Linked DNA regions of Homo sapiens: all the other regions are reported to be linked to region 1. Evidence: microRNA targets listed by miRTarBase, many of them from high-throughput screens and not tested one by one. Region 1 holds a microRNA gene; each other region holds the end of a gene's coding sequence.
What was found. Region 1 holds the annotated microRNA hsa-miR-98-5p (UGAGGUAGUAAGUUGUAUUGUU, at 1,192-1,213, opposite strand). A microRNA usually pairs through its seed, bases 2 to 8, with sites in the 3' UTR of a target mRNA and lowers its output. Matches are read on the target gene's strand: a 7mer-m8 pairs with bases 2 to 8, a 7mer-A1 pairs with bases 2 to 7 and ends in A, and an 8mer does both.

Region 1 (3,000 bases):
TCTGTCCCAAGAATGCAAGAACTGGAGCTCTGACTCTGTGGATTCTAAGAATAAAATCCTTTCTGTGCCCTGCAGGTGGAAGGGGGAAGATTTCAGGCCATATAGGGTGAGGCTAAATGTCTCTGACCTATAGGTACACAGAAAATCTAACTACCAAAATCCTATTGATCCTCCCACTTCATCTATTTGGAGCAAGAAATGGTCAGAATTTCGTTCAAAACTCTATTTGTTTTTTTTGGAGACAGGGTCTCACTGTTGCCCAGGCTGGAGTGTAGTGGCACAATCATGGCTCACTGCAGCCTTCACCTCCCGGGCTCAGGTGATCTTCCCACCTCAGCCTCCCAAGTAGCTGAGACTATAGGCATGTGCCACCATACCTGACTAATTTTTTGTATATTTAGTAGAGACAGGGTCTTGCCATGTTGCCCAGGCTGGTCTCAAACTCCTAAGCTCTAGCAATCCACCCACCTCGGCCTCCCAAAGTGCTGGGATTACAGGCGTGAGCCACTGCGTCCAGCCCTTCAAAATCTTTTTTTTTTTTTTTTTTTTCCTGAGACAGAGTCTTGCTCTGTTGCCCAGGCTGGAGTGCAGTGGCGTGTTCTCAGCTCACTGAAGCCTCCACTTCCTGGGTTCAAGCAATTCTCCTGCCTCAGCCTCCTGAGTAGCTGGGACCACAGGCGAGTGTCACCAAGCCTGGCTAATTTTTGTATTTTGAGTAGAGGCGGGGTTTCGCCGTGTTGGCCAGGTTGGTCTCGAACTCCTGACCTCAGGTGATCCACCCGCCTCGGCCTCCCAAAAATGCTGGGATTACAGGCATGAACCACTGCGCCTGGCCCAAAATTCTTAAAGTATGCTTTCCATTCCCTTGCACACATTCCTGTTCTATTACTAATAAAATGCAATCATTACACAGTTGAAGAATAGCAAAATGAGTTCATGCCCAAAGGTAAAATAATTATATGCTCCAATTAATGAAAGACAAGTCACTTTATAATGACATCTGCCTCACCCTAAACACCATCTGTCCCCTTCCATGTCTCTTTTCTTCCAGTCCAAATTATCCAAGGAACATCTACAACTTTGTCTGATGGAGGCAACACTGCTAAGACTAAGTGTGAATATGCCACACACCAGGGAAAGTAGTAAGTTGTATAGTTATCTTCTAATTGGGGCCTAATATCCCTACCCCACAACAATACAACTTACTACCTCACCCTGGCATGAGCAGAATCCTCTAATAAGGGCAGCAGGCAAAAGGCCATTTTACATGGTGACAGACTCTTTTAAAGATCTTTTGCTAGATTAAGGGTACCAAGGCATCTACCCTACTTCACTGCTTTAAAAAATATTGTGCAGGCTTTGGTACAATCATTTTCCAACTCAAGTGCGAAAGGAGACAGGTGTAGGGAGGCAGAAGAATGTTCTGAGGAAATATGGGTGGGGGAGACATATGATATCACATGAACCAACTGATAGAATCACAAAATGGCTACTGACCATTGTTAAGAAGATCAGAGGGAATAGGAAACATACGGCAGTCATACCACTAAGCCCAGAGAGCTACCTTCATGAACAGCACACTATCCAAGACAATGTTCCTAGACTTTTAGATTCCATGGACCAATAAAATTTAATTAAAAAAAGAACAAAAAGTAGAGACTAATGTAGGGGTTGCCAACTTTTAGTTTAGCCATGTAAGAAAAAACATCCAATCAACATCATTTAATAAAAATATTTTGGTACCACAGAATTAGGAATATGATCTCTAAATACAAAAACAGCCTTTTAAATGGAATAAATTCAGCTTTATGAAAAAGGCATTAAAGCTCCTTGATTTTGTTCGTTTCCACAGAGGACTGGCATTTGAGAACCACTGTCATCAGTTATTCTCATGAAGTGCCACACCATGGTGGTCATCAAAGGACCAGCCACTTCAAAGATGTACATGAACATGCTGTTTCAGAGGACAGAGTTGCAGTCAGGAAATGAACAAGACACATGACCTCATTACCCATGCCAGAACAAAGTAGATAATAACCAGAACAAGAACCTGAACAGAGCCAGTCGGAGAAGAAGTGTACCACCGTGGGAAAGACAGTAGACTGTATAGTTATCTCCAAGATGGGGTATGACCCTAAAACTATACAATCTACTACCTCATCCCACAGAGCACCAGTGTCCATCTTCAGCCTATGTGGGCCAGCTACTCGGAACTATCAGGATAAAGAAGCAACCAATTGATTAGTAAGAAGGGAGAAAGGGAAGGAGAGTTACCTGAGAGATTCTGTTCAGTGGAGTCATTTGACTTAGATGCAGTACACTGCAAAAAGAAGGGATAGACCAATGTGGGACTTTGCAAGCACCTAAGATAGAGGTCAACTGTAATAGTCACCATCCTCCACCCAGACCATCTAGGAGTTCAGTGATCTAATGGAGAATGCTTTGGCCATGTGACCAAAGGAAGGTGATCATTTCACTGTGCAAATATATGACCAATTTCTCTATACATACTCAGGTTCAAGAATTGTTTGGGGCTGAGGGGGAAATAAATATGGAAGGAAAGGATAATAAAAACCCCTTAGGGATGGGCACGATCATGATCATTCTAGCAAGAATTTCTTGGTTTCATCTATGTATTTTTTCCCTTCATGGGGCTTATTTTTTATTTTGTCCACTCTAGTCTTTTCAGTCACAGGCTAGGTTCACTTATTTTTCATCCTATATCAAGTTTGAAACAATGTGTGTATTAGGTAAAAAGTTCTATATAAAGATATTTGTTAGATCAACCTTGTTATTTTAACTGAACACTTCACTACCCTTATTTTTAATCTACCTGATTCCTTAACTGCTGAGTAGGGTATACTAAAGTCTTTCACTCTCAAGTCTTATTTCTTTGTATTTCTATCAGTTTTTCCCCCTTTTATATCAAGTGATACACTGTAATGTATAATTCTATCAACATTTACTCAGACATTTAAAAGATCTCTGTCTGAGGTCCCA
Region 2 (5,390 bases), not on the chromosome of region 1:
GATGTGCCAAGCAGTGAGCTGGGTCACTGAATGCTAAGAAGTAGTTAACACTTGGCATAGCATTTGTTGTGTTCTAGACATGTTTTAAGCACTTGACATTATATTATCTCATTGAACCCATAGAACAACCCTGCAAGGTTGGCACTGTTATTTTTTCCATTTCACAGATGAAGAAAACGAGGCACAGGGAAGTTCTGAATCTGGCCCAAGGTCAGTGAGCTAGTAAGTGAGGAGATGGGGATTAGAATTCAAGCAACCTTGCTAAGAGTTGACTCTCAACCATTCCCCTGTCCTGTACTGCTTCTTTCCCTACACCTTTGCTTTTTATGAGCCACCTTCACCCCTGCTGCATGAGCATTTGAGGCTGAATTTGTGGTGTTTGTAGCTAACTGATGATTGATGAGTGGGCCCTTGCTGTGTGAGTGCCTGACACATACAGAGTGCTTGATGTATATGTGTTGAAAGAACGATTATTGACAAAAAGAAGATTGAAGGTGTGATTGTAAGAGACTTTAACATTATCTTGGTTGTTTTTTTAATTGTGAAGAAAAATACCGATGGCTAAAGATTTTAGTTGCTCTATGACCCAGTCAGTAATAACCAAATGTGTGTGCACCTGTGCTCTGAGGTCACACACACCTGCATGTATATACATTTGTACTGTACAGAGAGGAAACAAGGGAGAGACTTTCCCTCTTTGCATTGACATTTCATCATTAGATGTGTTGCCAGTTGGCACCACCCTTCCTGCTCTGTTCTGCTATTGTCCCCTCATGATTTGTCCTCTTGTGTGTCACCCCCTAGTCTGACTGACAGTACTCCACAAGCTTGCCTGCCATGGGCTGTCGGGATGTCCACGCAGCCACAGTCCTTTCCTTCCTGTGTGGAATCGCCTCAGTAGCAGGCCTCTTTGCAGGGACTCTGCTTCCCAACTGGAGAAAATTACGATTGATCACATTCAACAGAAACGAGAAGAACCTGACTGTTTACACAGGCCTGTGGGTGAAATGTGCCCGGTATGACGGGAGCAGTGACTGCCTGATGTACGACACTACTTGGTACTCATCAGTTGACCAGCTGGACCTGCGTGTCCTCCAGTTTGCCCTACCCCTCAGCATGCTGATCGCCATGGGTGCCCTGCTGCTCTGCCTGATTGGAATGTGCAACACTGCCTTCAGGTCCTCGGTGCCCAACATCAAACTGGCCAAGTGTCTGGTCAATAGTGCAGGTTGCCACCTGGTGGCTGGGCTGCTATTTTTCCTGGCAGGTACTGTGAGCCTCTCCCCATCTATCTGGGTCATCTTTTATAACATCCATCTGAACAAGAAGTTTGAGCCAGTCTTTTCATTTGACTATGCAGTGTATGTCACTATTGCTAGTGCTGGGGGCCTGTTTATGACTTCCCTTATACTATTTATTTGGTATTGTACATGCAAATCTTTGCCTTCTCCTTTCTGGCAACCATTGTACTCCCATCCACCCAGTATGCATACTTACTCACAGCCCTATTCAGCACGCTCTCGCCTCTCTGCCATTGAAATTGACATTCCAGTAGTTTCACACACCACTTAATGGGGAAATAGTTAATTGTTAAAGAAAACTTCTTGTAGCCTCACATTCCCCTTGTGCAAAGAGCTCTTTTGGACCTACATACATTTTCCTTTGTTTTTGACCAATCAATGAAGCCAAATTTATATGTCCTAGTAGAATGAAGTGCTGCTAGTTTTTATGAGAAGTATATTATATTAAATGTGAATTTTTTAAATTTTGCTTCTTATACTGGAAGGAATTTTAGCCTTCATATTGATATCTAATTAATTATTTAAGTGGAAGAGGCCTGCATCACAATTGAGGTAATGTAGAGCAACATGTTAAAGAATGATGGTTAGCAGAAGCTGTTGTATACAATCTTCATGAAAATTTCAGTGTGTATTTTTCTTTTTCTATAATACCTTTAACTGCAAAGAAAAGGCAGTTTCAAATATAAGAAATTTATTTCAGGTAAGGGTAATATTTTAATAGTAGTCAATAATCTAGCTTAAGGCTGTAACTCTTCTATCGGGGCTAATTGTATGAATAGGTGTCAGTATGTTGAAGATTACTTTCTTTTGTGACTTTCTTCTACCTCATGCCACTGTTTAAAAGTAAAACGTATTTTAACGATGTTAGAATAAGACTACCATTCTAAATATCACCTACTTATGAATAACATGTAATAATTTTTAACATTAATGATTCCATAAATTGTATTATTGGGATTAGAATGTGCTTTATGACAGGTTAGTGTTTCCTCTGAGGCAGAAAACTCTTTTTTGGAGATATCTTCCATCAAGCAGTACTCGTGCCCATATACAATCTCTTAGTGGCTAGGAGAAATAAATAAAAGGGCCATAATGGTTTGTTCTCTTTCAGACATAATTTAGTAGGGGACAAGAAGTCTGTTCTTCAGTGAGTACACTAGAGATTTACTCTGGTGACTGCCTTTTGAGTTATGGGTGAAGTAAGGTATGGCTTTACCATAACCTTGATTCATTCACCCTTGATTCATTTCTCGCCCCCGTCACTGATTATTTCCTTGAGCATATATCTCTGCCTAACACTTTAGTAGGTGCTATAGAGGATACATGAAAAGTATGAGATCTGGTTCCATCCAGTAAGACATTTTAATAGAGAAGATCAAAATGTTACCTGGCAGTTGGGGAATAATCTGACTTCGTTGGCAGTTGGCCTTAACTTCTTAATCATTGATCCAGGAATATTTCAACCAGAGACACAACTTTCTGGCAGACAGACAAATTGTACAACACCAACAATATCCTGGACCTTGAAATTCTGTTTACTTCAGTCCATTGTATCCTTTAAGGCACCTGTGCTAGCCTAGATTTTGTAATAACACTGATTTATGAGAATGGACAAAAGTGGTAGGGAAATTGTTCCCTCTCCACTTCTGAAAGTATGATGATGTATTAAGGATGGAGGAGTTATTAAAAATGTCTCTTCTGATGAGGTAACAATTAGATGAAACCATGTTAAAGCTGAGATGAACACTTAGAAATTCAGGGATATTGGGTCTTTAGCCTTATGAATTTGAGCTGCTTATTTAATTGGTGTAATTTACTACATATTAGTACTATATTCGTAAGGATTTTTTATTAACCATTACAGATTTTACAAACAGCTAGTTATATGGTAAACAGATTATTATGCCTTTTTGCAATTCTGAATATGATTCTAGTATTTGTGTAGATGTATTTGGTACTTTTTCCCCTAATTCCAACACTAGTTTATATATATAGCGAATAAATCTAGTTGTATAAATTTTTAAATGCCGTCAGTAGAAAGCACACAAGGTTATGATTTTTTTAATTACTGGCTTCTGATTTCTTTCACTTCTGATCCTTTTCCTTTTTCTCAGATGTAGCTGAGTCTTGATCATTTTAAGACAACGATGGGTAGAATTTTGAGATTAATGTTAATTTTCCCTTTTTGTTAATTTCAGTCCCCTCTCACTATGCTTTTGTCCAGAAGGATCAAGAATTCTACCATCCCTTGGGTCTTTGTGTATAAACAATGTTAAATAAAGGTAGACTCAGTCTTTAAGATATTAGACAGTTTTTTTAGTCCATGGGATTGTAAATATAAACATTAACTTTCCTATAAGAATATTTTGGCTTTGTAATCTATAGCCTCAAATTGGTATTTATTATGGATTCACTAGACAAACAGCTGTTTCCTTATTGTCTTTTTTCTTTAGTGTTTCTGATTTGCTATCAGTAGCTGTTTTTAAAGCCGTCCAAGGAAAATAATTATTTACAGTTTTTGAAGTCACTTTTGAGCCCTCATCAAGCTCTCATTGTGATGGGAGGGATACCTTTTTGTTGTTAAAAGCCTATTATTGTTAAAGGCCTTTTATGGAAACCAACTTGGAAAACAACCTTAAATGTGGATGTATCAGATTTGGTTTATCCAGCCATGGGAGAGAAAACAAACCTAAGTTTACTTTACTTGTACATATACACTACAATGGATAGTATATTTGCTGTAAACTACAATGTAAAACCTCAATAAAAGTGCGCTGTACTTCTTAATGTTTATTAAAAGATGTATTTTTACAAGTTTCTGCTTCTGTTTTTTTCCTCAGTGTTTTAAGGTGAAATATTTTGAGAAATGTTTCTCAGATATATGTAAATTGAAAAAGACAGTTCCATTTAAAGCTCTAAAACGTGTGAACTGGAAGGCTGGGTGCAGTGGCTCACGCCTGTAATCCCAGCACTTTGGGGGGCCAAGGCAGGCGGATCACTTGAGGTCAGGCCCTTGAGATCATCCTGGCCAACGTGGTGAAACCCTGTCTCTACTAAAAATACAAAAAATTAGCCAGGCATGGTGGTGTGCACCTGTAATCCCAGCTACTCGAGTGGCTGAGGCACGAGAATTGCTTGAACATGGGAGGTGAAGGTTGCAGTGAGCTGAGATCATGCCACTGCATTCCAGCCTGGGTGACAGAGACTTTGTCTCAGAAAAAGGAACTAGAAAGGAATTGGAAAACATGGAACTTTTATTCCACAAGTGCCAAGACGTTTTATCCATTTCTAAGAGTAGTCCAAGTAGTCCTGTGGTCCTAACAGTTCACTGGGCTTTTTTTTTTCTCCTTTTCTTTTTTTTTTAAACAGTCTGCAAAGAGACAAGTTGTGGGCCAGATTTGCCTCATCAATGGAGTTTTCTCAGCCTGTGATCTTAGAGACTGGGAGTTCAGTTCTCAAACAGTTAAGTAGAGGGAACTTTCCGTACTCTTCAAAGCTCGAGGTTACCAGGAGAAGTGGTCCTGACAGGCATGTCACCTCAACATTTCTGAAACCTGTGATGAATGTATAGTTTTGGATTACACCTGTGTTGGGGCAGTTCTTACATACACTTCTCACTGAAACCTGTGGCTCTGATAGGTTAGATAGCTGAGCCATATGTTGCACTGGAAATCAGAAGCTACTTCAAACTGGGTTACACTAACGAACAACAGTCCGTTCTGGACTGTTGTGCAGGTTCACTGAGGGTGAATAAATGGTAGAGAAACCATTCGGGCTAACCAGGTTCACCAGAGACTGGTTTACCAACCAGAAGTGAGAAATACATGTTACTTAGAACCATCAGACACAACCAGTTTTATCCAAGGCCCAGCACATCTTATTCTGCCAAAAAGTGAGGAAACGCTCAAAGAATCATGGGAGCTTATCAAATTTCACAGGCGCCAGATTGAAGGTGCTCCCATTGGCCAAATCTGGGACAATCTGAACATCAAAATAAATGATAGTAATGGGTTATAACTCATTGAATAAAATACAAATCCATATGTCCATGCTGATATAAATAGGGGAAGAAAGAAAAGCTCTTTCTTA
Region 3 (5,390 bases), not on the chromosome of region 1:
TCCCAGCACTTTGGGAGACTGAGTGGGAGGATTGCTTGAGCCTAGGAGTTTGAGACCAACCTGAGCAACATAGTAAAACCCCATCTCTATAAAAAATTAAAAAATTAGCTGGGCTTGGTGATGCATGCATGTAGTCCCAGCTACTCAGGAGACTGAGATGGGAGGATGACGTGAGCCCAGGAAGTCCAGGCTTCAGTGAGCCGTGATTGCATTACTGCACTCCAGCCTGGATGACAGAGCAAGACCCCATCTCAAAAATGAAAATAAGTCCAGATGCGGTGGCTCATGTCTGTAATCCCAGCACTTTGAGAGGCCAAAGCAACCAGATCACCTGAGGTCAGGAGTTCAAGACCAGCCTGACCAACATGGAGAAACCCCATCTCTACTGAAAATACAAAATTAGCCGGGTGTGGTGGCACATACCTGTAATCCCAGCTACTCAGGAGGCTGAGGCAGGAGAGTCGCTTGAACCCAGGAGGCGGATATTGCAGTAAGCCGAGAGAGAGCCACTGCACTCCAGCCTGGGCAACAGAGCAAGACTCTGTCTCAATAAATAAATAAATAAATATAGCAGGACAAAATAGTAAATACATAATGATTATAATTATAGCAGAGAAACTAGACACATAAATATGATTGAAGGAAAATAATAGTAAATGAATAGTTGTTATTGCTATGATTGTGGAACTTGAGTAATTGTTATTCTTTTTTTTTTTTTTTTTTTTTTTTGAGACAGAGTTTCGCTCTTGTTGCCCAGGCTGGAGTGTAAGGGCGCAATCTTGGCTCACCACAACCTCTGTCTCCTGGGTTCAAGCGATTCTCCTGCCTCAGCCTCCCGAGTAGCTGGGATTACAGGTATGTGCCACCACACCCGGCTAATTTTGTATTTTCAGTAGAGATGGGGTTTCTCCATGTTGGTCAGGCTGGTTTCAAACTCCTGACCTCAGGTAATCCACCCACCTCGACTCCCCAAAGTGCTGGGATTACAAGCATGAGCCACCGTGCCTGGCCTGTTATTCTTTTATATCCTGCCCTTACTATAGTGTGGCTGTATAATTGAGGCAGGAACTGCTTGTTATCTACCCAACATCTACTCTCTCTTTCCTTCTTATAAAGATAACATTGATTGTCTTTGGGAAGGTAAAACTATTCCAAGATTTTCTTGCATGTGATTCATTTCTAGCTAATGAGCTACAGAAGAAAGTCATGGATGTGCTTCTGCTTCTAGGATTTTTTTCTTTTCTTTTCTTTTCTTTTTGATACAGAGTCTTGCTGTGTCGCAGAGGCTGGAGGGGAGTGCAGTGGCATGATCTCAGCTCACTGCAACCTCTGCCCCCTGGGTTCAAGCAATTCTCATGTCTCAGCCTCCCAAGTAGCTGGAATTACAGGCGCCCACCACCACGCCTGGCTAATTTTTGTATTTTTAGTAGAGCCAGGGTTTTGCCATGTTGGCCAGGCTGGTGTCGATCTCCCAGCCTCAAGTTGATCTGCCCACCTCAGCCTCCCAAAGTGCTGCTGGGATTATAGGCATGAGCCACTGCGCCCAGCCTAGCATTTTTAAAAATTTTTATTATTATTATTATTTTTTTAAAGAGGGAAGTTCGGCTGGTATGTCTCTTTGGCCTTCCATTCTTTTTTCTTCCCATTTGGAATGTGGCTGCAAAGCCTACAGATGCAACCGCCTTTCTGTGACCGCGAAGCATCAAGCCTCAGGCTGTTGGGCTTCACTTCCAAATGGAGGAGAGGAAAGATGGAAAGATCCCTGGGCTTTGCAGCTCTGGATTTATTTTTGTGTGAGATGAGTAACCTCTGTTTGCTTAAGTTATGGCTCACTGGGTTTTCTGTTATTCACAGCCAAATACAACTCTAACTGATAAAATTACTTCTGTAATTAAAATAAAATAAGAAGAAAAGTTGTCTGATTCCATTCCGTGACTAAACAAGGTTTTTGTTCTTCCTTTTTTGTTTTTGTTTGTTTGTTTGTTTTGAGGTGGAGTTTAGCTCTTGTTGCCCAGGCTGGAGTGCAATGACGCCCAGGCTTGGCCACTGCAACCTCCGCCTCCCAGGTTCAAGCGATTCTCCCAGCTAATTTTGTATTTTTAGTACATACGGGGTTTCTCCATGTTGGTCAGGCTGGTCTCAAACTGCTGACCTCAGGTGATCCACCCGATTCAGCCTCCCAAAGGGCTGGGATTACAGGTGTGAGCCACCGCACCCAGCCTGGTTTCTGTTCTTCTAAGCTCTGCCCACACTCTTCTTTCACCAATCCCTTCTAATCCTTACCCTCATTTCTTTCTTTGTCTAGCAAACTCCTACTCAACCTTCAAAACTCAGCTTAAGACCGGAAACAGAGGCTCACGCCTGTAATCCCAGTGCTTTGGGAGGCCGAGGCGGGCAGAACATCTGAGGTCAGGAGTTTGAGACCAGCCTGGGCAACAGGGCGAAACCTCATCTCTACAAAAATACAAAAATTAGCCAGGCGAGGTGGCGCGTACCTGTAGTCCCAGCTACTCAGGAGGCTGAGGCAGGAGAATTGCTTGAACCCAAGAGGTGGAGGTTGCAGTGAGCCGAGATTACACAGCCTGGGTGATAGAGTGAGACTCCATCTCAAAAGCAAAAGACAACAATAAAAAACCTCAACTCAAATGTTAATGTTATACCCTGCAAAGTCTTTCCTAAGCTTTCCCTCAAACAGATTCATCATCATTGTGCCCATGGTGTTTTGTCCGTGATTCTGTGATAGCACGTTTTACACTTGACTATGTTTGCCTATTTCCTTGGTATCTCCTCCACTGAACTGTGAGCAACATGTGAGCAACTGGAGGGTAGAAGCCACGTTTCATACTTGTTCCCTCCAAGGCAGCTGGCATACATACCACTAAGTATATAATAGGTGCACAACAAATATTTTCTGGAATGAGTAAACACAAGAATTAAAAAACAATGCCGGCCAGGTGCTTTGGCTCACACCTGTAATCCCAGCACTTTGGGAGGCTGAGGCGGGCGGATCACGAGGTCAGGAGTTCTAGGCCAGCCTGGCCAATATGGTGAAACCCCGTCTCTACTAAAAATACAAAAAATTAGCCAGGCGTGGTGGCACGCATCTGTAGTCTCAGCTACTCAGGAGGCTGAAGCAGGAGAATCACTTGAAACCAGGAAGCGGAGGTTGCAGTGAGCCAAGATCAGGCCACTGAACTCCAGCCTGGGTGACAGAGTGAAACTCCGTCTAAAAAAAAAAAACAACAAAAACAAACAAACAAAAAGCAATGTCTATATGTTTAAACCAAACATCATCCTCCCCTTCCTAGGTTGACTCCTGTTTTCTCTCCACCTCTGTTTAACTGGAAAAAGAATAGTTAATGAGTTGGCAGTTAGGGAATGTTTCACACTGTCACCTAGGCTAGTGTAGTGGTGCAATCACAGCTCACTGCAGCCTCAGTCTCCTGGGGTTCAAGTGATCCTCCCACCTCAGCCTCCCAAGTAGCTGGGACCACAGTTGTCTGTCACCATGCCCGGCTAATTTTTAACTTTTTTGTAGAGACAGGTTCTCTGCATGTTGCCCAGGCTGCTCTGGAACTCCTGGGCTCAGGCAATCTTCCACCTCAGTCTCCCAAAATATTGAGACTATAGGGCTGGGCACGGTGTCATGCCTGTAATCCCAGCACTTTGGGAGGCCAAGGTGGGCAGATCGCTTGAGGCCGGGAGTTCCATACCAGCCTGGCCAACATGGCAAAACCCCGTCTCTACAAAAAATACCAAAAAAATTAGCCGGGTGTGGTGGCACACGCCTGTAGTCCCAGCTACTAGGGAGGCTGAAGCAAGATAATTGCTTAAACCTGGGAGGCAGAGATTGCAGTGAGCCAAGATCGTGCCACTGCACTCCAGCCTGGGTGACAGAGTGAGACTCCCTCTCAAACAAACAAACAAAACAAAAAAACAGGATTATAGATGTAAGCCACTGCACCCAGCCTTGGATCATTTTAATCTAGGTGGGAATGGGGGGTGAATTTGAAGTCACATTTTATTGAAAGTAGGAAAGAAGTTGAGACATACAGGAAGTAAATTAGGGCAGAAAGTTCAGAATTAAGAATAAGAATCTCTCAGTCTCTCCTGTGCTAAATCATAATTTGTCATGGCCAAAAGCAGGGTGACTTTAGCAGATGTAGCCCAACTCTGAGTCCCAGTGCTGAGGGGTGAGTCCCAGTTCCACTTACACCGTGTTGGATGTTGAGGAGGCAGGTCACTTACATCCTCCTTTTAAGCCACGGTTTCTTTCTCTGAGAAAGAATAGTAACGCTCGCCTTCCCAACTCACAGAGTTGTTGTGAGGATCAAAGTGATCAGGCTTGTGCATAAGAATTGCTGTGACACCCCATGCAAATGTGAATCATATTGCTTTTATTACATGCAGGAAAAAACGTGATCCATGTTTGGTGAAAAGTTCAATGAATGAATGGATGAGCCCAGCTTGCTAATCACCTTATTTTAATACAAGACTAAATGCAGGAACAGCTTCATCTATCATATTTTAATCAAAGGGTAAATGCAGGAATGACTTCATCTTTTGGGTTTATATAAAACATAACCAACATATACGACATCACCATTATGAAGAAAGTTCTTTTCCCCATTAAACAGCTGATGCTTAGACTTTCTTTACATGGGACAAAACCTTTTATTCCACTATTTGAGATATGACTTCAAATGCACTATGCCTGAATAAGGTACCATTGAGACTTAAATCACACTAATATATATATGACTATTTCATTTTTCAAATGCATATTTTAATGGGAACTAAGGGGAAAATGAGTTTGTTTTGTTTTGCCTTTTTTGTTTTAAATTTTACCAGTAAAGTGTATTTTGTTATCTGTACTGCCAAAGAGGTAAATAATTATATAAACTAGAGGCCAGTCACCCACCACTACGGTGGGCTATAAAAGGGCTCTTTCCCTATTTCTTCCATCTTCCTACCCTTGAAATTTTGGTTCTTCTGCTTAATTTAACAGAGCAGATAGCTTCGACATTCATTTGAAGCTAAAAATAAAAAGCACAGACAACATAACCCCTAAATTATAGATGAACAAAAATCTTGGAAGAACATTGGAATAGATCACAGGGAATTGTATTAATTTCTACCCAGATAGCAAAGCCAATATCTGTGACTAATCCGCTCTTGCTATGATCAAAATAGTCATCACAAACACCATAATGAAAAAAATCCACATGAAGAATCGGTCTATGACTTTCGCCACCTTCTTCCATTCACTCCCCTTGGAATTGGTGGCCTTGTGGTCTTTGAGGCACTTGGCGATGTACTCAATATTCCTCGTCAGCACTTTGTACTGTGCACAGTAACTCTCGGCCTCCTGAGGGTTCTTACCCTGGCAG
Region 4 (5,390 bases), not on the chromosome of region 1:
TTGACCTCACTTGCAGCACCAAGGTGAGGCCAGCCCGGGACTAGAAGTGCTCTGAGTGACGGGGTCCAGAGTATCTGGACTTAAAGACACAGGCTTAAGGACGAGGTGGGAGGTAGTCAGAACTGCGGCTGTCTCCCCAGGTGAAGACCTTGCTGCTAAATGCTGCTCAGAACACCATGGAGCCACCCCTGACCCCGCCCAGCCCAGCAGGTGAGAAGCATCAGGCATCCCCAGCCCGACTCCTCTGACTCCTCACAGAGGTCTCTTCTCCTTCAGGACCTCTGAAGGAGGCCTCCCTTTCTCTACCCTCAGCCCCGTCCATCACCCCTCATGGTCCTGTCTGTCGCTTACCTTGGGAGAAAGGCAGTGTTCAGGTGTCCATGTCCCCACCCAACTCTGGAGGTAAATGACATGTCTGTATGTGTGTCCCCCTAAGGGCCGGGACTGTCACTTGGTGATACAGCTCTGCAGAACCTGGAGCAGCTGCTAGACGGGCCAGAAGCCCAGGGCAGCTGGGCAGAGCTGGCAGAGCGTCTGGGGCTGCGCAGCCTGGTAGACACGTACCGACAGACAACCTCACCCAGTGGCAGCCTCCTGCGCAGCTACGAGGTGGGTTGGCCTGTGCCCTGCCCCCTCCCCAGCCTCCTTTCCCGATCTGAGTCCAGGTGCCTCCTTGGCCCCAGGGCTCCCGAGCACATGCCCTAACCATGACTCAGACCTCATTCCTCTGTCTTCTCAGCTGGCTGGCGGGGACCTGGCAGGTCTACTGGAGGCCCTGTCTGACATGGGCCTAGAGGAGGGAGTGAGGCTGCTGAGGGGTCCAGAAACCCGAGACAAGCTGCCCAGCACAGGTAAAGGGGCCTCCCTGGAAGGTGGATCTGGACCTGGAGGGCCGGAGGCCTGAGGCTTTGACTATCCCATTCCTGTCCCCATTTACCCCCAGCAGAGGTGAAGGAAGACAGTGCGTACGGGAGCCAGTCAGTGGAGCAGGAGGCAGAGAAGCTGGGCCCACCCCCTGAGCCACCAGGAGGGCTCTGCCACGGGCACCCCCAGCCTCAGGTGCACTGACCTGCTGCCTGCCCCCAGCCCCCTTCCCGGACCCCCTGTACAGCGTCCCCACCTATTTCAAATCTTATTTAACACCCCACACCCACCCCTCAGTTGGGACAAATAAAGGATTCTCATGGGAAGGGGAGGACCCCTCCTTCCCAACTTATGGCAGCCCCTGATGTGACTCTTGTCCCTGGAACCAGCTACCCACCCTGCCCACATGCCAGGCATGGTGAGAAGAGAAGGAGGAGGCCCAGCCAGCAAGTCCAGAGCAGTTTTAATGGGGGTGGAGGCTGTACAAAGGGCAAGGCCCACTGAAGCGGGGGAAAGCCAGGCCGTGCTGCCCCCGGCCCAGGTATGGGGCCTTGGCATGGACGCCCTTCCTCCACCTCCAGCAAGAGAAAGAGTAAGCCCTTGGGGAGGAAGGAGGGGAAACCAGCTCAGCCCCAAATCCTGGTCTCTGTCCAAGCCAGGCCCCAGGACAGAGGGGGACTGATGGTGTCAGGGTGGGGGTGGTCTCAGCAGAAAGCAGAAACGGCATCAGGCCTCTCCCACACAAAAAAAAAGCATCAAAAGTTCAGGGGCGCTAGCCCCTCCCGCCCCCGCCCACCCTGTACGAAAAAGTGCAAAACATTATCACAAAAAGGGGCTCTCGGAGGTGCCCCTAGCCTAGGCTCCTGAGGCCCAGGCCCCAGCCCTGCCCTGCCCCGGACACCGCGTCCGGCGCGGTCGGGCCCTAGGCCGGGAGGCCCTCGTGGGTGGCCCGAGGCCGGCCCGGGCTCAGGCAGGGCCATGTCATCCTTCAGGTGCCCAGCAGGCACTCCCCACCCTAAACCTCATCTCAGGGCTTCCGCCGCCCACTGCCTGCCCCTGGCCGAGGCTCTGAGCTGTGACGCTGAGCCCGGGGCTGGCTGGAGGGTTTGGGCTGCAGGGAGGGACTGGAGTGAGAAGGAGGGAGTCCATCCTCTGTGCTCCCGGCCTGGGCCAGTGCTGCCTCCACTGCATCCAGCTCCTCACTGCCTGCCTTCAGCTTGACCCGAAGCAGCGCTGCATAGGTGCTGTAGCGGGATTTCTGAGGCAGAGGGGCAGGGGCTGTGAGAGCCTCTTCTCTGCCTTCTGCCCACCCCACCATCTGGACCAGGGAGGGCCGCCAGCAGGGCAGAAGATGGCAGGTGCCCACCCAGGACTGTGAGATGGTCCCATGCGGGCTGGTGCCCCCTCTGGGCTCTCCTGGGACCATCATCTATAACCTAATGTGTCTTGAGCCTTTACTAGAGCTGGGGAAATGGCACGCTTGAGACATGCCTCACCTCGAGACCCCAGTGGATGTCAAATGTTATCCTTGTTGCACAGAGGAGGAAACTGAGGCTTAGGTTAAGCAACCTGCCCAAGGACCTCCGGCCGGTTCCACTGTTAGAGTTCATGCCCTTCACCCTAGTATGGGCCTGCGTGTGTGGACAGAGGGGCAGACAGGGAGGCTCACCTCAAACTCCAGGTAGGCCTCCTTCTGCCGCTGCTCTTCAGCCTCCTTGCCCCGGCCCTTCTTGCCCAGCTGGGCGGCCCGGTGCTCCCGCAGCTCACTTGCCATGGCCTTCAGCTTGGCCTCGTGGGTCCGCACCTGCTCCTCCTAGCGGCCAGGGGGAGGCATGGTCATGGTCACTCTGCCCTATACAGTGCCTCTGCAGATTTTTAAAAAGATACCCCTTCCAGCCGGGCGCGGTGGCTCACGCCTGTAATCCCAGCACTTTGGGAGGCCAAGGCGGGCGGATCACGAGGTCAGGAGATCGAGACCATCCTGGCTAACACGGTGAAACCCCGTCTCTACTAAAAATATAAAAAATTAGCCAGGCGTGGTGGCAGGTGCCTGTAGTCCCAGCTACTCAGGAGGCTGGGGCAGGAGAACGGCGTGAACCCGGGAGGCAGAGCTTGCAGTGAGCTGAGATCGTGCCACGGCACTCCCACCTGGGCAACAGAGCGAGACTCCATCTCAAAAAAAAAAAAAAAAAAGATGCCCCTTCCTTTGGACAAACAAAGCACTATGTTTGGGTTCCCAGCCGGCAAGCGGGACCCAGTGGGGGCTGGATTTCAGTCCCTGCTCACCCCTGTGGCCAGCATCCTGGTGCAGGGGACATCTCCACGATCACACGCAGCAGCCTTGAGTGCAGTGGGCCTGAGCCTAACACCCTCCATCCCACTGGCACTAGGTGGACAGAGCTTGGGCTACCTGGGAGAGGCGGGTGGCAGCGCTGGGCAGGAGAGGGCGGCTGAACTTCTTTTGGGAGCTAACAGCAGCTGGGAAGGGGGGCGCAGAGAACATAGCGGCTACTACATTGATGCGAGTGATCCAGGACTGCATCTGCTCCAGGCTCCTGGGGAGAAAGCACAGCCCTTTGGGACCTGGGCCCAGGGTTTCTGTCCCAGGATGCCAGTCCTGGCTCAAGTGTGGCCTGAGAAGGAATGAAAAAATCCAGGGACAGGGAGGGGAGCAGGATGGGAGGTGGGGGAAGGGGTCCGGGATGGGCAGGAGGAGGGCACTCACGGGGCCTGGAAGAGGAAGACCCGCCAGTCAGCTGTGCGCAGGTAGAAGACGTGGGGCCTCTTGCTGTAGTCACTGGCACGAGTGGCCAGGGCATGGTGGATGCTGATGGCATTCTTGAGCTCCGTCTCTGAAAGGGCCTTCCCAGGCTTGTACTCCTCCTGCAGGGGTGTCCATCTTGTCCTGGCCCCAAATGCAGCCTGGCCCAGCCCCTCCTATTCCCACCCATCACCCCACACCCACCAGCCAACTCAGTCCCAGCCCCAGCCCCCTGGCCTGACCCCGCACCTTCTGCAGGTAGAGGATCATGCCCTTGAGGATCCCGTGGAAGCTCTTCCAGCCCCGCTTGCCCCGAGGTGCTGCGGGGAGAGAAGACAGGTCAGGGGGCCCTGGAACAGGCCCACTCCCATCCATCCCCTAGACGCCCGCCCCCCGCAACTCGGCCACATACTCTTCCTGCAGTCAGGGTCTGCGTGCACCTTTCGCACCAGGGCCCCGTGCTTGTAGACGGCAGCCCCAGGCTCGGGAGTCAGGTCCAGGAAAGGGCTGGAGCCACTGCCACTGCCCCCGCTGATCCGCTTGATGACCTTGGGGTTGGGGTCGGCCAACTCAGACAGAGAGCGTCTCAGCTCCTCCTCGTCTCTGCAGGTGTGATCACCTCAGAGGGGGCTGGCCATGGAGCCGCGGCCCCCGCTTCAGTTCTGGCCTCTGCTCGCCCTGGAAAAGCTCCCCCAGTGTTTGTGGCTTGGGGGGCTCAACCTGAGGGTCCTGCCATGTCTCCCGTCTCAGATCAGGCCTCCACAATGTGTAGCTGTGCCTCCTCAGAGCAGGGCACCTCCCTCAGAGCTCCCCAGCCTAGAGCCACCACTGTCCCTTCCTCCCAGCAAGTAGGGCCAGCACTATCCTCTCCATTGCTGCACACCTGCAGCCCTCACACCCTTCTCCACCAGGACAGCCCCGGGCCTGCCTCCGCTGGCTCAACCACATCCAGCCCCAGGCTTTGCTCACGGTTTGTGGGCTAAATGGTAGCAGATGGAAGAAGTAGTTTCCTAGTGCCGCCCCCACCCCAACCCCATACATCCTGGTCTACAGGCTCAGTCAGATACAAAATTTCGGATTCTATCTTGTCACTCCCTTGCTCAAGAACCTGTGGTAGTTCCCTGTTACTTCCCATATGGAGCCTACACTGCATCTCCCCCAACAGTGTTTTTCTCCGTCCCAGCTAGGCCTGCCTCCCTTGGTCCCCCACCCCATACTCATTTCAGCCACCACACCTTTGCCTCCCAAATTCCAGCTTCCCCTTTCCTCTTCCCAAATGTTGCCCCAACTTCATGGCCCCAGTCTCAACCCTCCAAAAGCCTTCCCTGATCTCCCCCTGCACCCTAATCCTGAGCTGCACCTCCCCTGAGATCTCCAATGACTGGGAACTCCCAGCTAACTGGACAGTGAGGGAGTCTCAGTGGATAACGGCAAATTTGAATGATCTATGAACTGTGAAGATAAGGCCTCTACCCTCAGACTGGGGACCCCAAGGCCCAAACTGGATTTCTTCCCTCAGACTAGAAGACTAGACTCTTCCAAGACTTACTTATGAGTCTCTGTGTTTCTTTTTTCTTTTTTTTTTTTTTTTTGAGACGGAGTCTCTCTCTGTCACCCAGGCTGGAGTGCAGTGGCGGGATCTCGGCTCACTGCAAGCTCCACCTCTCGGGTTCACAGCATTCTCCTGCCTCAGCCTCCTGAGTAGCTGAGACTACAGGTGCGTGCCACCACGCCCGGCTAATTTTTTGTGTTTTTAGTGGAGACG
Region 5 (5,390 bases), not on the chromosome of region 1:
CGCTGGCGGAAGAGAGGCTCAGCGCAGGGGGCGCAGAGCCGGCGCTGGCCAATATGCGCCGCATGTGATACCTTTGAGGGCGCGGCGGGGGAGGGTAGCGTCAAATTTCAAAAAAAAAAAAAAACCAAACCCACACAGCCCCGGCGGGCGGGCGCGCGCGATGGGCGCCCTTTGGCTGCGGGAGCGAGTGGAGGATGCTGGGAAGGAGGTAAAATGGCCACCGGCGGCGGCGCGGAGGAAGAGAGGAAACGGGGGCGGCCGCAGCTTCTGCCCCCCGCGCGGCCCGCGGCCCGGGGCGAGGAGGCCGACGGCGGCCGCGAGAAGATGGGCTGGGCCCAGGTGGTGAAGAATCTAGCCGAGAAGAAGGGCGAATTCCGCGAGCCGCGGCCGCCGCGGCGGGAGGAGGAAAGCGGCGGCGGTGGAGGGAGCGCCGGGCTCGGCGGCCCCGCGGGCCTGGCGGCGCCGGACCTCGGCGACTTCCCACCGGCTGGCCGCGGGGATCCGAAGGGCCGTCGGAGAGATCCGGCCGGCGAGGCGGTGGACCCCCGCAAAAAGAAGGGCGCTGCGGAGGCGGGCAGGAGGAAGAAGGCCGAGGCGGCGGCGGCCGCCATGGCGACCCCGGCCAGGCCCGGCGAGGCCGAGGACGCGGCCGAGCGGCCCCTCCAGGATGAGCCGGCGGCGGCGGCAGGCCCGGGCAAGGGTCGCTTCCTCGTCCGCATCTGTTTCCAGGGAGACGAGGGCGCCTGCCCGACCCGGGACTTCGTGGTAGGAGCGCTTATCCTGCGCTCCATCGGCATGGACCCGAGCGACATCTACGCGGTCATCCAGATCCCGGGCAGCCGCGAATTCGACGTGAGCTTCCGCTCAGCGGAGAAGCTGGCCCTGTTCCTACGCGTCTACGAGGAGAAGCGGGAGCAGGAGGACTGCTGGGAGAACTTTGTGGTGCTGGGGCGGAGCAAGTCCAGCTTGAAGACGCTCTTCATCCTCTTCCGGAACGAGACGGTGGACGTGGAGGACATTGTGACTTGGCTCAAGCGCCACTGCGACGTGCTGGCCGTGCCGGTGAAAGTGACCGACAGGTTTGGGATCTGGACCGGGGAGTACAAATGCGAGATCGAGCTGCGCCAGGGGGAGGGCGGGGTCAGGCACTTGCCAGGGGCCTTCTTCCTGGGGGCCGAGAGGGGCTACAGCTGGTACAAGGGGCAGCCCAAGACATGCTTTAAATGTGGTTCCCGGACCCACATGAGCGGCAGCTGCACGCAGGACAGGTGCTTCAGGTGCGGGGAGGAGGGGCACCTGAGCCCTTACTGCCGGAAGGGCATCGTGTGCAACCTCTGTGGCAAGCGAGGACACGCCTTTGCCCAGTGTCCCAAAGCAGTGCACAATTCCGTGGCAGCTCAGCTAACCGGCGTGGCCGGGCACTAAACACCCGCCTGCCTGCCAGGGTGAACACACAGCCAGCTTATCCCTCTTAAGTGCCAAAACTTTTTTTTAAACCATTTTTTATCGTTTTTGAAGGAGATCTTTTTAAAACCTACAAGAGACATCTCTCTATGCCTTCTTAAACCGAGTTTACTCCATTTCAGCCTGTTCTGAATTGGTGACTCTGTCACCAATAACGACTGCGGAGAACTGTAGCGTGCAGATGTGTTGCCCCTCCCTTTTAAAATTTTATTTTCGTTTTTCTATTGGGTATTTGTTTTGTTTCTTGTACTTTTTCTCTCTCTCCTTGCCCCCCTCCCGCCCTCCCCGCCCCATACCTTTTCTTCCCCTGGATTTTCACCCTTTGGGCTGCCTTGCTCATCTTTATGCCCCAGCACTAGGTACGGGGCCCAACACGTGGTAGGCACTCCATCAGTGTTTGCTGAATTGAAAACATTGTTGACTGTGGCTTCTATCAGAGTGTCTACCTTTTGCAGCTCTTCCCCTCCCTCATTTAATTTGCTGCTTTTAATCTACGTGGTCTGAGAATTTGTGAAACCAGTGTTGTTAGAAGTGTATATAATCTGAATCAATAAGCTCTGAATGGTGGCCAAGGGCCTCTCTTATGGCACAAAGATGCATGGACTTCATGACAGCTCTTTTGGTGGCTCAGAAGCCATTTTTTATAGAATCATGGAATCTAGAATATTCCTGCTGGAAAGAACCTGAGAGTTGGTTTGGACCAATTCCCTGGTTTTCCAGCAGATGAAACAGGCCCAAAGAGGTTAAATGACTGGGTGAAAATCACATAGCTGTCTGGTGCCAGAGCCAGCCTATAGTAGAGTCCCCTGACCCCAAGCCCGGTGCTCATTCCACTACCTCTCACACTTCACAACAATTTCCTCAACACTTGAGGGCCCAGAAAGTCTGATCTCTCCAGAATGATCAGCCCAGAGGAATGCTGAGAAATCACCTGGAGGAGGGAGCAGAAAGAGAAGGTTTTTAAGGAGGGGCTTCTGAATACTTGGGAGATACGGAACGGACCAAGGACCACACTCCAGGGTGCATTCGTTGCTCCCTGGGGCACCACTTCTGGATTACAGTGTGCCAGGTCCTTTGGAGGCCCTACCCCTTCCCCATTCATTGCCACCAGTGAGAAATGGGGGTGCCCCTGTGTAAAGAAACCTACCAAAGGTTTACATTTGCACCTTAGCCTCAATAGCTACGAACCCTAGAGAAGCAGCTAGCTGGAGCTCATGTGCAACTCCTGATTCTCAGGAGAAAGATGGATTTTAACCCAAAATTATGAGTGAGCTGTTAACTCTAAAATGTACTTGGGAGATAGGCCAAGCGAGAGGTCATGGGCCAACTAAGTGTTATCCAGTAGAAAAGACAGTACACTGCTTTTCTTTTAGTGTTTGCTTTTCCTTTGCTATATGTTTTGCTATTTCCTTGTGGCTTAGAATGTAAAATTGATTGTTAAAAGTTTTGTTCTGAATAAATATTTATCTTTTGTATTGCTAAAACTGGTGCACTATTTCCTTTCAAAGTGTTAGATGCACAGTTACCCAGCTCCAGACCGTATTTCAATCCCACTTCCCCTACACTCCATTTGTTTACCTTGCTAAATACATTTCCCACCCCTGCAGGCAACACTTAGCACCTACTACGTTGTGCCGGTCCCTTTGCATCACAATCAGCACACTGTTAAAACGGGTTTTAAGTCCTAACACAGTTCCAATAAATCAGAATCACTGTTAGAGGAAGTGAAACATTTTAGTTAATCATCCTCAAGCAATTCTGATGGGCAGCCAGGTTTGAGACCAGAGTATAAGATGTGTGAGCTGAACCCTGCCCTCAGGGAGATTACAGACCTGTGGGAAAGAGAGGTGGTTTGCCAGCTTCCTCGTCTTTCTGTTACTGTAAGCGCGCGCTGTGGATGGGATGCAAAATATTCTTGGGTTCTGGGAAAATGCCATTTCTTCCAGCTGTTGAAAAAGCGGGATCCAGGGAGCTGACTTCTCCAAGTTAGCCCCCACTGGAGACTGGGCCTGCAGGCAGAATAGGGTCAAGGTCCCTGGACTTCAGGTCCAATACCCTGCAGACCCCAGATACAACTCTCTGAAGGATTTTCCAGCTGGTGATGCTAGGATGATCTGATCCTGAGAGTTAAACGTTCCCAGTATATTGACTCTGACTCAGTGATTTGAGGATATTTCCAGAGCTGATCTGGAGTTGGGACCTGGTAGGCTCTTGGGAATCCTGTCTTTCAGAGCCAGTTCAACCCCTCTCCTTGTCTCCCAAAGCAAGCAGACTCTCCCCTCCCTCCCATCCCTCTTTCCCGTCTTTGCCAGCGGTTTCCCTCCCTCTCACAGAGCTGGAGGCCAGGGGCCAGGAGAAAGCCTGCATTCACCATACTCTCCACTCCGTTCCTCAAAGCAGGCACTGTGCCAGGGAGCCTCCTTGAAGGAACCTTCCCTCTCCTGGCCCCATCCCCCCACTCTCCAGGAGGGAGGAGAGGAAGAAACTGTTTCCCTGCCCATCCCCCACAGGATCTGCTTCAAGGCCTCCTGCCTGGTGGCCCAGGGACAGCCAGGGGCTGGAGCTGAACAAACCTCCCCCAGCTTCCTTTCCTGATCAAGCAGCCCTCAAATTACAATTCTTCACTGTTTTTGGGCTCCTGGAAAGTGTGCAGAGATGCCCGGACTGAGGCTGGTTGACTAGGGGACATTGATTCATTCCACTTCAACAAATACGGAGGGCATTAGAGCTGGGCCCCATGCAAGGCCCTCTGCATAGGCTGCCTTGAACAAGACAGTGCACTTGCAATGGAAGGTACAGATAAGTAACAGTAGGCAATGTTTACAATCATATATTTAACAATTTTTTTTTGAGACAGAGTCTCACTCTGTTGCCCAGGCTGGAGTGCAGTGGCATGATCTTGGCTCACTGCAACCTCCACCTCCCGGATTCAAGCGATTCATGTGCCTGAGCCTTCCAAGTAGCTGGGATTACAGGCACGTGCCACCACGCCCGGCTAATTTTTGTATTTTTAGTGGAGATGGGGTTTCAGCATGTTGGCCAGGCTGGTCTCGAACTCCTGACCTCAGGTGATCCACCTGCCTCAGCCTCTGAAAGTGCTGGGATTACAGGCGTGAGACACCGCACCCAGCCAACATTTGTCCTGTATAGAATTGTCTGAAGTAAAGGTTTCCCTAGAAGAGAAAACGTCCTGACTGAAACCTGCAAGATGAGTAAGAACCAGGCTAAGAGTGAAGAGACAGCCAAGCAGCAGAAATAGCAGATGTAGAGGCCTGGAGGCCAGAGAGCACACAGCGTGTTCGGACTGGCCAAGAGTCAGGGGAAGATGTGGCTGGGAGAAAACGCCGAGAAGAGGTGTCACAGGGCTTACCAGCCATATTTAAAAACGTGGATTTTGTCCTCAGAGCCTCCAATCAGGCCTCCTCCATTCCATTCATTCTTTCAACACATGCCTGTTAAGCGCCAACTCTATAGGGGCCTTTTCTAAGCGATGGAACACAGCATGGAGCAGGATAATCAAGTCCCTGAAGCTCAGATTCTAGAGTCACACAAGTACATAATTACAGACGATGATGCACTAAAAGAAACATACAGGGTGAGATCCCTGTTTAACAAGCAAAGCTGATCCAGTCTTAAGGATCAGAGAAAATGTTTGAACTGAGATGGAAAAGACATAAAAGGAGTTAATCGAGAGATGGGGCTGGGGATTAAGGGATGGCAAGGGTATTAACCTAGGCAAGAGGGATAGCAAGTAAAACAACCCTATAGTGGGAGGAGGCATGACCACTTCTAGAGACTAAATGAATCAGTCTAAGTTTAGAAACAGAAACCACTCTTGCTGTTGAAGAAAATGCTGGTCCCTGGGCTGGGTATTAGGAATGACTCCTAGAACACCATAGAACTGCCAGGGGAGTTACTACCTCTCA
Region 6 (5,390 bases), not on the chromosome of region 1:
AAAAATAAAAAGTAACTGCTGAAGAAATGAACAAAAAGGGTCACACCTTCAAAAAAGCCTAATTTCCATTCCAGAGCAATCTCAAGACAAGGAAAAATAAGAGCTGCTTCACACTGAGGGCTTATCTGGTATCAAGGACCACCGCCAATGTCATCCATTAGCCATCCCCAATAAACCCATGAAGTTCAGCCTGAACAGCATAGAAAGACCTCGTCTCTACAGAAAAAAAAAAATTTAAAAAGTAGCCAGGTGTGGTGGCACATGCCCAGCTACTCAGGAGGCTAAGATGGGAGGATCACCTGACCCTAGGAGACCGAGGCTGCAGTGAGCTATGATCACGCCACTGTACTCTAGCCTGAGTGACAGAGCGAGATTCTGTCTAAACACACACATACACACATACACACCATGAAGTTTTAACTTCCCCATTTTACAGATGAAGAGACAAAGTCTCAAGCCATACAGCCAGTAGGTCAGCCTGACTCCAAAAACCCATGCCCCAAGCCACAATAAGTCACTGCCTTCCAAAAGCCTCATATTATCATGAGATATAAGGCAAGGAGGTATGGGTAAAACACCTTAACCCTTAAAGATACAAACTTATTGTAGGCCCAGTTGGTCCCTCAGCATTTGGGGACTGTGCTATAAGGGTTAACTCAGCAGGCTTGAAGTGTCCAAACCCAGCACATCTCAAAGAAAAAACTGGCCTTAATGGGCTCCTGGGAGATAACCTCTAAGTCCTTGGAATATCCTCCCAAGTAGGGGTGTCTTTGTATACCTCAGGCCTTGGGCCATACCAGGCCAGATAGTTTGTGCTAATAATGTGATTTATGGTGGGGACCTTGGGCCATGCTGTATCATTTTGACCTCTGGAGCAGCTGGTGATTAAGTAACTAAAGTCGGTCATGTGATTGCCCTATGTGACTGACATGCAATAAAAACCTAGACCCCAAGGCTAGGGTGAGCTTTCTGGCTGGTAATATTTAGTACGTGTTGTCACATATCATTGCTGGGAAAATTAAGTGTGTCTGTAAGACTCTACCAGGAGATGACAACTGGAAGCTTGAGGCCGGTCTCTCCCGGACTCTGCCCTATGCACCTTTTTCTTTTGTTGATTTTATTTTGAGATGGAGTCTTGCTCTGTCACCCAGGCTGGAGTATAATGGCACGATCTCCGCTCACTGCAACCTCCGCCTCCCAGGTTCAAGCCTCCTGAGTAGCTGGGATTACAGGTGCACACCACCACGCCCAGGTAATTTTTGTATTTTTAGTAGAGACGGGGTTTCACCATGTTGGCCAGGCTGGTCTCGAACTCCTGACCTCAGGCGATCTGCCTGCCTTGGCCTCCCAAAGTGCTGGGATTACAGGCGTGAGCCACTCCACCCGGCCTCTTTTGCTGATTTTAATGTTTATCCTTTTGCTGTAATAAACCATAACCATAAGGATAATAGCTCTTCTGAATTCTGAGTTCTTCTAGCCAATCATCGATCCTGGGGGTGGCCCTGGGGACCCTGACACAGGAATTCAGCTGTGCCTTACATGCACCTATATTCTCCAGCTTTTTGCTCATCACAAATCTACCTGACAAAATCCAGTATGGAAAGAAAAAAAAAACCCTATTCATTCAGTAAAGTAAGGCACAAACAAATGAGCCTCTGTTCACTTTATTCAAAGAGTATTTTTTTCCTCTGTGAAACTAGGTAGAACTGAGGAGGAATCAAAGAAAGCCTCATATATTAAACTCTTAAATAGATTCTTTGAATTCAAAGTAAGGGTCAATAGGAGAGGCACAGGTTGTGGGCCTTGTCCCAGCAAACAAAGCCACCAAGGCAGTCCTGCAAATTAAGGAGGATGGCAAATCTGTCTCTTAAAAAAAAGTTCTTGAGGGGAAAAATATAAAATACCTAAGTTTCAAAAGCCGGACTACTTCCATACCCTTCATTCTCTACCCTGGAGTGTCCAGAGATAGAGAGTTTCAAGGTACGTTTTCAATGATTCAGCTTTTGCAAACATATGCAAATACATTCCTCATCAGCAGTCCTGTTTTGGCGATTAATAGCAAGCAATATGCTTGGATTAGAGGTCCGATTTCCACTTAAATGCATTTTCTTCTCTTCTTGGCAATGAAGTCATTTGCGGAGATCTGAAAGTGGGGAAGACTGTGTTAGGCTCAGAGTAACAATTCTGAAATAGATCATTTATATTTATACATGTGATTGCAGAACATACTGTCTTCATCCATTCGCATAAGCATGTAATGTTTTAAGAATGCATCCCAGATGGCCAGAGAGAGTTTAAATTTAAAAACGTTTCCTGGGTTCTTCCCCACATCTCATCTTGCATCCACTTGACCTCAAATATACACTTTTCTTATGGACACAGAGCAAATGACAGTGATTATGTGATAAATACTGATGAATTCTTGGAGGCAAGAGAAGGACTCATGTTTGTTCAAGGCCAACTCTGTACCCAGGATTCAGCTAAAGCACCTCTATATGGTATCTCATTTAAACAGTAAAACAAGTAACAAATCTGCTTTTGTCAATGAGAAGGTCCAGGATTCTACTAATGATCTGCAGAAAGGCAGCGAGGGAACAGTTAGTGAGGAACAGGGAGGAAAGCTGTTTTTCATGAGAGGGTTCTTTTCTTTGGAATAGAACTATGGGATCTTGGGTAGGTGTGGTGGCTCATGCCTGTAATCCCAGCACTTTGGGAGGCTGAGGTGGGCAGATCACTTGAGGCCAGGAGTTTGAGACCAGCCTGGCCAACATGGTGAAACCCCGTCTCTACTAAAAATACAAAAATTAGCTGGGTGTGGTAGCGCACACTTGTAACCCCAGCTACTTGGAAGGCTGAGGCACGAGAGTCACTTGAACCCCAGAAGGTGGAGATTGCTGTGAGCTGAGATCGTGCCACTGCACTCCAGCCTGGGGAACAGGGTGAGACTCTGTCTCAAAAACAAAAACTCTGGGATCTTAGTGCAACTCAAGATGGGAACCCTAATAATGACAGAGTCCTTGCAGGTTGGAGCAAAGTAAATTGAAAGAAAAACTAAAACATATGCTGATTGTTTAAAAATAGATACAGAGACTAAAAATAAGAGTCCAAGCTGGAAGGTGTTTCCATGTAAAATAACCTCTCTTGAGGTTTCCTTTAACCTGATCATAGAGGCTGGGGGACAGAAGGAAGTGAGCTCACTCATGCAGCCTTAACTCCAGTGCCCAAGTCCACAGCGAGGGCCCAGCACTTCACGGTTTCCAAGCACTCCCACCTGGGCCAGCTCACGCCATCTCATGGCCAACCTCAGAGGTGGGCAATGATGAATCCCCATTCTCCAGATGAAGAAAACAGGGGCTGAAGGGAGTTAAACCTGGAGATCTTAAATCTTTGAATTACCAAGTTCAAAAAAATCCCTTTCCCCACCCCTTAGTAGAATATGGATGGATAAATGTGCACTTAAAATCATTCACTAAAAGCAAACCTGGGAGGAATTCTGTCCCTTGGTGGCTGTGTAGCCTTGGGCAAGTCAAAGCCCTTCCTTCTCTGTGCTTTGGTTTTCTCTTCTGTAAAATGGAATGATCATGTCATCCGCCTCCCAAGGATGCTGAGGGTTAAATGAGTAACACAGGACCAGTACCTGGCCCAACGGCCATGGGGGTTATTCTTAGAACAGAACGACTTGTGACTGTTATTAGAACATTAATTGCTCTGGCCCAACGCTGATGCTGTTTTTAGAAGCCAGACTGGCAGACAGCATTCTGTGCAAAAATGGTTCCAGAATCTCCCCCTCCCCCATCATAGTGGTGCTTCCTGCCCTGTCCCCAGTGTCAGACAAACCTTTTTCTGGTTGGTTCAGCGTTAATCCCTCTCCCTGTCCTTGATCCAGAGCTAGAAAACTAAGCCTTGATTCTATAAATAGCACCCCCAGTCTGTCACCATGGAAACCTCTGATGGGGCTGGGTCAGCCCACCCTAGTGGACATGTCTACCCCAGGGAGGCTCTGGAAGGACAGAAAAGTGGCTTTTCAGAAAAGTGGCTCCGGGGCCACCCAGAAGCAGCGGGAACCCCCAGTGAAGTCCACAGGCTTACCTGGAAATCACGAGCTTCCTAAGTGGGAGGAGGTGCTGTTCTGGTTCACCTGGAGAAAGACAATACACAGAAGAAGGGGTCACGGCCAGGTGAGGGATGCCTTGCTGTATTGAGGGTCACCCCTCAGCATCACTGAGTCATGCACATGCTTATTCACGTAGTATTTACTGTACATCTACTATGTGCCAGGTGCTGGGATAGCGTGGTGAGCGGGACAGACCCAAACCTAGGATCACGGAACTTACGTTCGAGTTGAAGAAAAAGCCTACTGAACACGCACAGATGCAAGAAAATGTCAAACTTGGGCAATATGACAGGCTGCTATGAGTGATCAGTATCTGTGCTACTTCAAAAACGGTGGCCAGGAAAGGACTCTACAAGATGGCATTTCAGCTGTGGTATAATAATAAATATTTGTTCATTGTCCCCAGTTCCTGGCACATAGCTCCCCAAACTCTTGGAATCTCTGAAGGAATAAGGGTATCTTGGCCGGGCGCCATGGCTCATGGCTGTAATCCCAGCGCTTTGGGAGGCCGAGGAGGGTGGATCACCTGAGGTCAGGAGTTTGAGACCAGCCTGGCCAACATGGCAAAACTCTGTCTCTACTAAAATACAAAAATTAGCCGGGTGTGGTGGCGGGCACCTGTAATCCTAGCTACTCAGGAGGCTGAGGCAGGAGAATCGCTTGAACCCGGGAGGCAGAGGTTGCAGTGAGCCAAGATCATGCCACTGCACTCCAGCCTGGGTGACAGAGGGAGACTAGGTATCAAAAAAACAAAAACAAAAACAAAAAAAAAACAAAACGTATCTTTTGCATGCTAATGACATGACTAATGGCTGGGGGTCCCTAGATAGCTTCAGGATTAGGGGAAGGGGTCTCAGAAAGACCAAGGCATGATTAGAGGGTTGGAACTTTTTTTGTTGTTTGAGACGGAGTCTCACTGTGTTGCCCAGGCTGGATGGAGTGCGGTGGTGCAATCTTGGTTCACTGCAACCTCCGCGTCCTGAGCTCAAGCAATTCTCCTGCCTCAGCCTTCCAAGTAGCTGGGACTACAGACGTGTGCCACCACGAATGGCTAATATTTTTTGTATTTTTAGTAGAGACAGGGTTTCACCATGTTGGCCCGGCTGGTTTTGAACTGCTGACCTCAAGTGATCTGCCTGCCTCAGCCTCCCAAAGTGCTAGGATTACAGGCATGAGCCACCACACCCAGCCAGAAGGTTGGAACTTTAAGCCCCACCTGCCTTCTCCCCTCCCTGACCTCCTGGGAGGGGAGAGGGGAGAGGGTCTAGGGGCTAGG

Region 2: miRTarBase lists CLDN12 as a target of hsa-miR-98-5p. Seed matches in the 3' UTR shown: 8mer at 2,122-2,129.
Region 3: miRTarBase lists CHRNA9 as a target of hsa-miR-98-5p. The part of its 3' UTR that is shown has no 7-base or 8-base seed match.
Region 4: miRTarBase lists NFKB2 as a target of hsa-miR-98-5p. The part of its 3' UTR that is shown has no 7-base or 8-base seed match.
Region 5: the mRNA of ZCCHC3 is a reported target of hsa-miR-98-5p. Seed matches in the 3' UTR shown: 7mer-m8 at 2,298-2,304.
Region 6: miRTarBase lists TPST2 as a target of hsa-miR-98-5p. The part of its 3' UTR that is shown has no 7-base or 8-base seed match.

What each region holds. Positions count from the first base shown.
Region 1 is chrX:53,555,108-53,558,107 of GRCh38, forward strand. It overlaps MIR98 (microRNA 98), which reads right to left and starts at 1,234; the gene lies at 1,116-1,234. HUWE1 (HECT, UBA and WWE domain containing E3 ubiquitin protein ligase 1) reads right to left here. Exons shown (of 84, transcript NM_031407.7): 60 at 2,275-2,320. MIRLET7F2 (microRNA let-7f-2) reads right to left here and starts at 2,167; the gene lies at 2,085-2,167.
Region 2 is chr7:90,411,840-90,417,229 of GRCh38, forward strand. It overlaps CLDN12 (claudin 12), which reads left to right. Exons shown (of 4, transcript NM_001185072.3): 3 at 168-210; 4 at 805-4,115. The coding sequence starts at 838. The coding sequence ends at 1,572. Among named protein-coding and RNA genes, the nearest start is that of CLDN12, 11 kb to the left of the region's middle.
Region 3 is chr4:40,354,295-40,359,684 of GRCh38, reverse strand. CHRNA9 (cholinergic receptor nicotinic alpha 9 subunit) reads right to left here. Exons shown (of 5, transcript NM_017581.4): 5 at 4,468-5,390. The coding sequence ends at 5,165. Among named protein-coding and RNA genes, the nearest start is that of CHRNA9, 22 kb to the right of the region's middle.
Region 4 is chr10:102,401,309-102,406,698 of GRCh38, forward strand. NFKB2 (nuclear factor kappa B subunit 2) reads left to right here. Exons shown (of 23, transcript NM_001322934.2): 19 at 1-23; 20 at 141-210; 21 at 437-609; 22 at 740-851; 23 at 944-1,216. The coding sequence ends at 1,068. PSD (pleckstrin and Sec7 domain containing) reads right to left here. Exons shown (of 17, transcript NM_002779.5): 12 at 4,038-4,228; 13 at 3,875-3,945; 14 at 3,590-3,747; 15 at 3,275-3,419; 16 at 2,534-2,677; 17 at 1,311-2,122. The coding sequence ends at 1,892. Among named protein-coding and RNA genes, the nearest start is that of NFKB2, 8.3 kb to the left of the region's middle. RefSeq lists an enhancer at 1-263 and a silencer at 2,504-2,798.
Region 5 is chr20:297,374-302,763 of GRCh38, forward strand. ZCCHC3 (zinc finger CCHC-type containing 3) reads left to right here and starts at 197. Exons shown (of 1, transcript NM_033089.7): 1 at 197-2,948. The coding sequence starts at 214. The coding sequence ends at 1,425. RefSeq lists silencers at 301-390, 571-640, 3,832-4,126.
Region 6 is chr22:26,524,125-26,529,514 of GRCh38, forward strand. It overlaps TPST2 (tyrosylprotein sulfotransferase 2), which reads right to left. Exons shown (of 7, transcript NM_003595.5): 6 at 4,090-4,138; 7 at 1-2,143. The coding sequence ends at 4,097. Among named protein-coding and RNA genes, the nearest start is that of TFIP11-DT, 14 kb to the left of the region's middle.